Homo sapiens: one gene and its partner. The protein of the gene in region 1 purifies or fractionates together with the protein of each later gene. This does not show direct contact. Each region holds a gene or a part of one and is shown on either strand. Other genes may lie near its edges.

Region 1 (3,815 bases):
CAAACTTAAGAAAAACAAAAACATCTAGCAACATCTTACATGAGTTTTCCATTACCTAGTGTTACATCATTGTTAAAATCATACTCTAAGCCTATATTTTACCTTAATGTTATCTGCTTCATAGAATAGTTATTCCTTTAACACTTATTTTTAAGAAATAAATTTATTTTACTTGTAGTTACTTAAACCCTAGAAATAATTTTTTCAAACAGTAGAAGTACAGCCTTTTATAATAAGATAGTTCATGATTTGTTCTTTCGAGGATTTTTTTTTTAATAAGGTTCTTCTACAATTGGATGGTGACAAAGTTTGGGTTTGTTAGGATTATTTTTCAGCAGCCAATCAGCTAGCCAAATCTATGGGAAAAAAAAAAACAACCTAAGTTAAGAAACAGTTACATATTTCCTTTCAATATATACTATATCAATTGGAAACTTAAACAGTTTTCAAAATCACTTTAAGAAAATGACCATTAAAAATGGAAACATTTGGATTTACATTATGCAAGATTGTCAAGAATAGATCCAAACTGGCAAGAAAGAAGTAAAACTATCTCTTTTCACAGATGGCATAAACCTACATGTGGAAAACCCTAAGGAATTTACAAGGAAGCCACTACAGCTAATAAATTCAGCGAAGATGTAGGTTACAATACACAAAAATCAACTGTATTTCTATACATCAGCAATGACAGTCCAAAAAAAAATTTTAAATCACTTTCATTTACAGTAGCATAAAGACAAATAAAATGCCAAGGGATAAATTTAACCCAAGAAGCGAAAGGCTTATACATTAAGAACTGTAGAACATTGCTGAAAGAAATTAAAGAATACCTAAATAAATGAGAAGACATTATTTTTCATGGATACGGAGATTTGATATTGTTAAGATGTCAATACTTCCCAAAGCAATCTACAGATTCAGTGCAGCTCTTGCCAAATGTCCAACAAGTTTTTTTGCAGAAATGGAAAGCCAATCCTCAAATTCATATGAAATTGCAAGGGGCTCTGAGGAGCCAAAACAATCATGAAAAAGAACAAAGTTGGAGGACTGATTTGTACTCTCAATTTCAAAACCTTCTACAAAGCTACAGTAGTCAGCACAGTGTGGTAATGACATCCTTATGCCAGACATGCAGACCAATAGAATGGACCTGAGAGTCCAGTGCTCTCTTCGGCAGCACATATACCAAAACTGGAATGATACAGAGAGATTATTAGCATGGCTCCTGTGCAAGGATGATGCACAATTTATTAAGCATTTCATATTTTAAAAAAAGAATGAGAATCCAGGAATAAACCCACGCATCTATGGTCAACAAATTTTTGACAATGGTACCAAGCCCATTGGTACCACTGGACTTGGAGAAAGAACAGTCTCTTCAACAGATGGTACTAGGACAATTGGATTTCCACATGCAAATGAATAAAGTTGGACCCCTATACCACACCATATACAAAAATGAACTCACAATGGACCAATGACCTAAATATAAGAGCTTAAACAATAAACATCTTAAAAGAGGCCAGTGACTCACACCTGTGATCCCAATACTTTTGGAGGCCGAGGTAGGAAGATCACTTGAGACCAGGAGTTCAAGACCAGCCTGGGCAACATAGGGAGACCCCATCTCTACAAAAAATTTTAAAAATTAGCTGGGTGTGGTAGTGTGCTCCTGTGGTCCCAGCTACTTGGCAGCCTGGTGCACAAGAATCACTTGAACTCAGGAGGCAGAGGTTGAAGTGAGCCGAGATGGCGCCACCAGACTCCAGCATGGGGAACAAAGACCCTGTCTCAAAAAAAAAAAAAAAAAAAAAAGGAAAGAAAAAAAATCTTAAAAGAAAACATAAAACACAGGGGTAAATTTTCATGACCTTGGATTTGGATTTCACAATGGATTCTTAGACATGACATCAAAAGCACAAGAAATAAAAGAAAAAATAAATAAATTGGATTTCATCAAATGAAAAATGTTTATACATTAAAGGACATTATCAAGAAAGTGAAAAGACAACCTACAAAATGGAAGACAATATTTGCAAATCATATATCTAATAAGGGTTTAACATCTAGAAATACAAAGAACTTTAACTCAACAAAAAGACAACCCAGTTTAAAAATGGGCAAAGGACTTCAATTTGAATAGACATTTCTTCAAAGAAGGTATACAAATGGCCAAGAAGCTCATGAAAAGATGTTCAACATTAGCCATTAGGGAAATGCAGATCAAAACCACCGTGAGAAACCATTTTGTGTTATCTACTAGCATGGCTACAAAAAAAAAGAAAGATAGGTCGGGCGCGGTGGCTCACACCTGCAATCCCAGCACTTTGGGAGGCCAAGGCAGGTGGATCACCTGAGGTCAGGAGTTCGAGACCAGCCTGGCCAACATGAAGAAACCCTGTCTCTACTAAAAATACAAAAATTACCCGGGCGTGGTGGTGTTCGCCTGTAAATCCCAGCTACTCAGGAGGCTGAGGCAGGAGAATCACTTGAACCTGGGGGGCGGAGGTTGCAGTGAGCCCAGATTGCGCCTCTGCATTCCAGCCTGGGCAACAGAGTGAGACTCCGTCTCAAAAAATAATAATAATAAATAAATAAAACACAGCAAGAAAATAATAAGTAATCAATAATTATACATATCTAACATGTATATGAAATACCTTCTAGAAATGTTTATTTTAAAAAGGTTCTCAATATTTGCAGTATTTCATTTATTTACTTATTTATTTTTTGAGATGGAGTCTCGCTCTGTTGCCCAGGCTGGAGTGCAGTGGCACAATCTCGGCTCACTGCAAGCTCCGCCTCCTGGGTTCACGCCATTCTCCTGCCTCAGCCTCCCAAGTAGCTGGGACTACAGGCACCCACCACCACGCCCGGCTAATTTTTTATATTTTTAGTAGAGATGGGGTTTCACCGTGTTAGCCAGGATGGTCTTGATCTCCTGACCTAGTGATCCACCCACCTCGGCCTCCCAAAGTGCTGGGATAATAGGCGTGAGCCACTGCGCCCAGCTATATTCGCAGTATTTCAAAGACACAATGTCTTAAACGTGAAAACTACAGACAATTTATAGAAAAAAAAATTTTTTTTTTGAGATGGAGTCTTGCTCTGTCACCCAGGCTGGAGTGCAGTGGCACAATCTCGGCTCACTGCAACCTCTGCCTCTGGGTTCAAGTGATTCTCCTGCCTCAGCCTCCTGAGTAGCTGGGATTACAGGCACATGCCACCACGCCCAGCTAATTTTTGTATTTTTAGTACAGACGGGGTTTCACCATGTTAGTCAGGCTGGTCTCAAACTCCTGACCTCGGATCCGCCCGCCTTGGCCTCCCAAAGTGCTGGGATTACAGGCATGAGCCACCACGCCTGGTGACAATATTCTTAAGTGTGAATAAAAATATTTCTTACCAAAGGATCTGCTGGTTTTTGCTTACAAAGCTCTGTGAGTCCTTCAAGCAGAGTTGGCATTATATGTAAATTTAAATAGTCCTTAGCAGCTTGTCCAATTGGAATGGGCTCAACAATCACTGCAAATACAAATGTATTCTCATTGATGCAAACATAATGATTAAATACTATACAATCATTAAAAAGGTTCTTTTTAAAGAACTTTTCTCTATTTTTTTATATGTTTTTTTGAGATGGAGTCTTACTCTGTTGCCTGGGCTGGAGTGCAATGATGCAATCTCAGATCACTGCAACCTCCTCCTGGGTTCATGTGATTCTCCCACCTCAGCCTTCCGAGTAGCTGGGACTACAGGTCCGCATCACCACACCCTGCTAATTTTTGTATTTTTATTTATTTTTATTTTTT
Region 2 (4,478 bases), on another chromosome or scaffold:
GGAGTGCAGTGGCAACCATCAGCTTACTGTAACCTTGAATTTCTTGGCTCAAGAGATCCTCCTGCCTCTGCTTCCCAAAGCGCTGAGATTATAGGAGTTGGCCACTGGTCCCAGACTATTTTATTCTTGAAAAATAATCTTAGATAAAAACATCCTCAGTTTTACAGTAAAAATCAGAAAGAGATTTGCTTGATGTCATTCACTAGGAATTGAGAAAGTCAGACCTCAATGCGTACTTTCCTCCTCAAAGCTTATTATTTTCTTTATTGTTTCCCTTTGAATTCTGGCTTGAAGCAAAAAAGGGAACAAGAACAGAATCTTTTCTATATGAATCAGGAATGTGACAAACCGCCATGCTCTCTAATCTTAGGATGTCAGTCTTTAGAAACTAATCCATAAGCCAGCCTTAAAGTGTGTGGTATGCTCACCACAGCCATAAGATGTGTAATGGTGAGAAATACAATTTAAATGTACAATTCAGGGACTCGATGAAGTAAATTATGGTGTACTTGTATAAAAGAATGTTATATAACTCTTATATGTATTTAATTATTTCATGAAGAAATGCTTACCCTATTATTGAAAAAGGGCTGGAGATAATTGAAATAAAGTTCTACAATAAAGACATTGCACTGTTCTCTCCATGTTCAACTCAAAACCCTTTCTCACTGATTTCCTACTGTAGGACCTTCAGTACCTTCTAGCTGTGGAGTCCTAATCAGGGGAAAACAAAGAGATAAGGCAGATAAGCTGCAAGTCTGCCTTTCTTCATGGTCCAGTACACAGCCCTCCTGTGCAAATAACTCACAGTCATCCTTCCTGTGTCCAACTATCACCAAACACCTGCAAGTTAGCTCACTGCAACCTTTGCCTTATAGATACTGCACAAAGCCATCTTCAACAGACAGCATAAAAACTATTCTATAAATTATCCAGCAAGCCTTTGTTTCCTGGCAGTCAGCTTCTCTTTTGCTGATCCTGCCTTTTGCCTCCTCGAAAAGTATTTTCATACTTTTAAAAGTAAATCTGCCTTTCTTTACAACTGTCTTGGTAAATTCTTTTACCCCCCCTCGCCTCCCGCCCAGATAGTCGTCCCTCCCCGGCGACATCAACCTAAAAGAGATTTTGAGAATGAATCTGATGGTTTCCAAAGTAACTGATCCATACGAAAGTGTATACAGCAGGGGAGTCGTCGGAGAAAGTCAAAACCCGTCTACTCACCAGCCACCTTCAGATGCACCAGGGCTTCTTCGTAGCTTCCATCCTCCCTGAAAAAGCACGTGTACTCCCCGTCGTCAGAGACTCTGACGCCACGGATCCTCAAGGCCACGCGCCCCTTGGCGATGCCGTCCTGGACCAGCGTCGCCCGCCCGCGGTACTCGGGCATCTGCTCGGCTTCCTGCTCGCGCCCGTCCCTATGCACCAGCACGGCCGGCGAAACCTTCTTTCGGAACCAGCGTAGCTCCAAGTGCTCGGCGCTCGCGTTCGGAGACAGGCGACAGGGCAGCTCGGCGTCCTCACCCACAACGGCCAGGATGGGCTCCGGGGGTCCAATCACGTCAAAGGGAGCTGCCGAAAAACGAGCGGGATCAGACGGGATGTGGAGATGGGAACTACGGACAGACACCGACCAGATTCCCGCCAAAGCGCAGTGCCCCGCGCTCTCTTACTCCTTTGACAGCTGAGTTTGTCTGGATCCAGTGGAGGTCTCCAGGGAGAGCCAAGTGGGATTGTTTATTTTACATTTATTGATATATTTCAACTATGCAGCCCAGAGAGAGAGAGAGACTTACCTGAATCCAGTTTGGGCAGCTGGAGGAGAATGAGGGTGAGCAGACATCTGGGGAGACCGGAGCTTGGGAAAACTGCCATCTCCCACCCTTCTGGAGCAGCAAGATAACTGATGTGAGTCCCCTCAGGAGCTTCAGCCTAGGAGATGAATGGACAGGAGACAACTACCGGCTCTGTCAACCCTCCGCTTTCCAAAGTCCTCTCTACAGTTCTTTCCAGCTGCAAGTGTTCTGGTCATTTGCCCCTGAAACCTCCTCTCAGCCTCCATCCCCAGTATGGATTTTTAGTTTACACTGTGGTTATCACCTTCCCACCCACTACTCTAACTCTAAAACTTAGGAGAAGGGAACTGTGAGGCATAACACTCATTAGTTGGTTGCATATCGATGAACAAATCTTGGAATCACTGCACTAAAAAAAAAGTCTCCTTTTTATTTATTTATTTATTTATTTTTGAGACAGTCTTGCTCTGTTGCCCAGCTTGGAGTGCAGTGGCATGATCTCGGCTCAATGCAACCTCAGCCTCCTGGGTTCAAGCGATTGTTCTGCCTCAGCCTCCGGAGTAGCTGGGACTACAGGCGCGCACCACCATGCCCCGCTATTTTTTGTATTTTCAGTAGAGACGGAGTTTCACCACGTTGGCCAGGCTGGCCTCGAACTCCTGACCTCGTGATCCACCCGCCTTGGCCTCCCAAAGTGCTGGGATTACAGGCGTGAGCCACCGTGCCTGGCCAAAGTCTTTTTTCAAATACAAGAATTTGGTATTTGCTTTTGGCAATGATAATAAAGATAAGGGTATAAAGGCAGAAATGGAGTCCAAGGAAATGAATTGGAGAAGAGAGAAAAGATGGGAGGAGATGGAGCAAGAAGCAGGAGCTGAAGCAAGCAAAAGGGCTTGAAGAGTAGAGGGCCTAGGACCAAGGAGAAAGGAGCTGGAGGGAGAGAAGTATGCTATGCCCCTCTGGCTGCTCACTCCCTCAGGGAGCTGAGAGTAACCACACATACTGACCTGGGTGATCTTGGAGAAAAAGGCACAAGAGGCCACTGCTACCAAGTGAGAAAGCTGGCTGTGGCCCCCGGGGCAAAAGTTAAAAGCCAGCAGGAAAAGGAAGCGGGAGGTGCTCTCAGGAAAGCCTGCCTCCAGGTGGCCTGGTATATTCACTCTGAGGAAAAAAAAAAGGGAGATGAAAAGTTTTTCAGAGAGATGGAAAACTGGATTTGTGGTCTTCAGCTCAGAAATCAAGATATGCATTGATGAGCTGGACCAAATGAAAGGCAGAAAAGAGAAAAAGAGAAGAGAGGCAAGGAAACACACAAATGAGATGTGATGGCTTCAGCCAGTTATTTCCTCTTTCCAAGCCTCAGTTCTTTGATCTCTAAAATGGTAATAATATTGATCATACCTTTCTTGAAGAGGTGTTGGGAGGATTAAGTGAGATTAAGCAGGTAAAGTGCTTAGCACATAGTAGGAACTCAGCGGAGGATAAATTGTTATTCTATTATTATTTCTGCGGGTTGAAAAATGAAAGCCCAGAGGCCAAGGTAGCAGTAGCCTCTGTCTATAGCCATCTTCGTTATTGGAGCGTCCGTCCACCTTAGGTGCTGTGTCTGTTGGAACAACTCCATTAAAGGCCAGTCTTAAGGGTAGGCTGTGAATTCTGTTTACAGGGCCCAAAAGTTGCCTCCCTGACAATTATTTCTTTTGAAGCAACTCATCATGAGGCCTACAATTCCTTAATTTATACTAAACCTACCTCTCATTGTTATGAAAAAATTTAAAAATACAGAAAAATATTTTTATAAAATGGAGGTCACACTTAATCTACTAACTAATGATAGCCTCAATTCACATTTTGGCATAGTCCTTCCAAGATTTATTTTATGCTTATGTATATCATAAAAGCAATCAATTAGACTTTTTGTGTAACTCAAAATATTGTTAATAGTTGTATAATTGCCATGATTGTGGGACATTTGGGATTTTTTTCCTATTGTAAATAATACACTTTATATATAAGTCTTTATTTGCAAATTGGATAATGTCCTGATAAACTGTTTAATAAATTTCCAGAAATAGAGTCATCAGATCAAATGGTATAAGCATATTTCTTTTCTTTTCTTTTTTTTTTTGAGACGGAATCTCACTCTGTCGCCTAGGCTGGAGTGCAGTGGCGTAATCTTGGCTCACTGCAACCTCCGCCTCCAGGGTTCAAAGGATTTTCCTCTTGCCTCAGCCTCCTGAGTAGCTGAGATTACAGGCACGTGCCACCATGCCCAACTAATTTTTGTATTTTAGTGGAGACAGGGTTTCACCATGTTGGCCAGGCTGGTCTCGAACTCCTGAGCTTCAATGATCTGCTTGCCTTGGTCTCCCAAAGTGCTGGGATTACAGGTGTGAGCCACCATGCCCGACCTAGTATCAGCATATTTCTACAGTCCCTTCCTGAAATGTTGAATCCATCACACCCTCAATGGAGGTGCCCTCACCTAATCCCTGCTAGCACTGAGAAGTTATTATTTCACATCCTTACTATTGGGATGGGTCAAGTTAATTAAATTATTATTTATTGTGCCTTTATATGTTAGCGAGGCTGGAGTTTTTTATGTGTTAATTAGACATTTAATACATTCTAGAAATGAGCTGTTCAGGCCAGTTGCCCATTGTTTTCAAGACTGGTCCTGGTGCT

What was found.
Region 2: the proteins of NME5 (region 1) and BTN1A1 purify together in Homo sapiens (affinity purification with mass spectrometry; one large-scale study listed by BioGRID and IntAct). This does not show direct contact.

Annotation. Positions count from the first base shown.
Region 1 is NC_000005.10:138,115,409-138,119,223, forward strand, and holds part of NME5 (nucleoside diphosphate kinase homolog 5), read right to left. Parts: intron 3,529-3,815; coding exon 3,410-3,528; intron 1,195-3,409; coding exon of another isoform or gene 913-1,194; exon of another isoform or gene 357-912; coding exon 273-356; 3' UTR 1-272. UniProt on the Homo sapiens protein: Functions as part of axonemal radial spoke complexes that play an important part in the motility of sperm and cilia. Does not seem to have nucleoside diphosphate kinase (NDPK) activity.
Region 2 is NC_000006.12:26,498,681-26,503,158, reverse strand, and holds the start of BTN1A1 (butyrophilin subfamily 1 member A1 precursor), read right to left. Parts: upstream 2,857-4,478; 5' UTR 2,801-2,856; intron 1,930-2,800; 5' UTR 1,873-1,929; coding exon 1,794-1,872; intron 1,570-1,793; coding exon 1,222-1,569; intron 1-1,221. UniProt on the Homo sapiens protein: May function in the secretion of milk-fat droplets. May act as a specific membrane-associated receptor for the association of cytoplasmic droplets with the apical plasma membrane.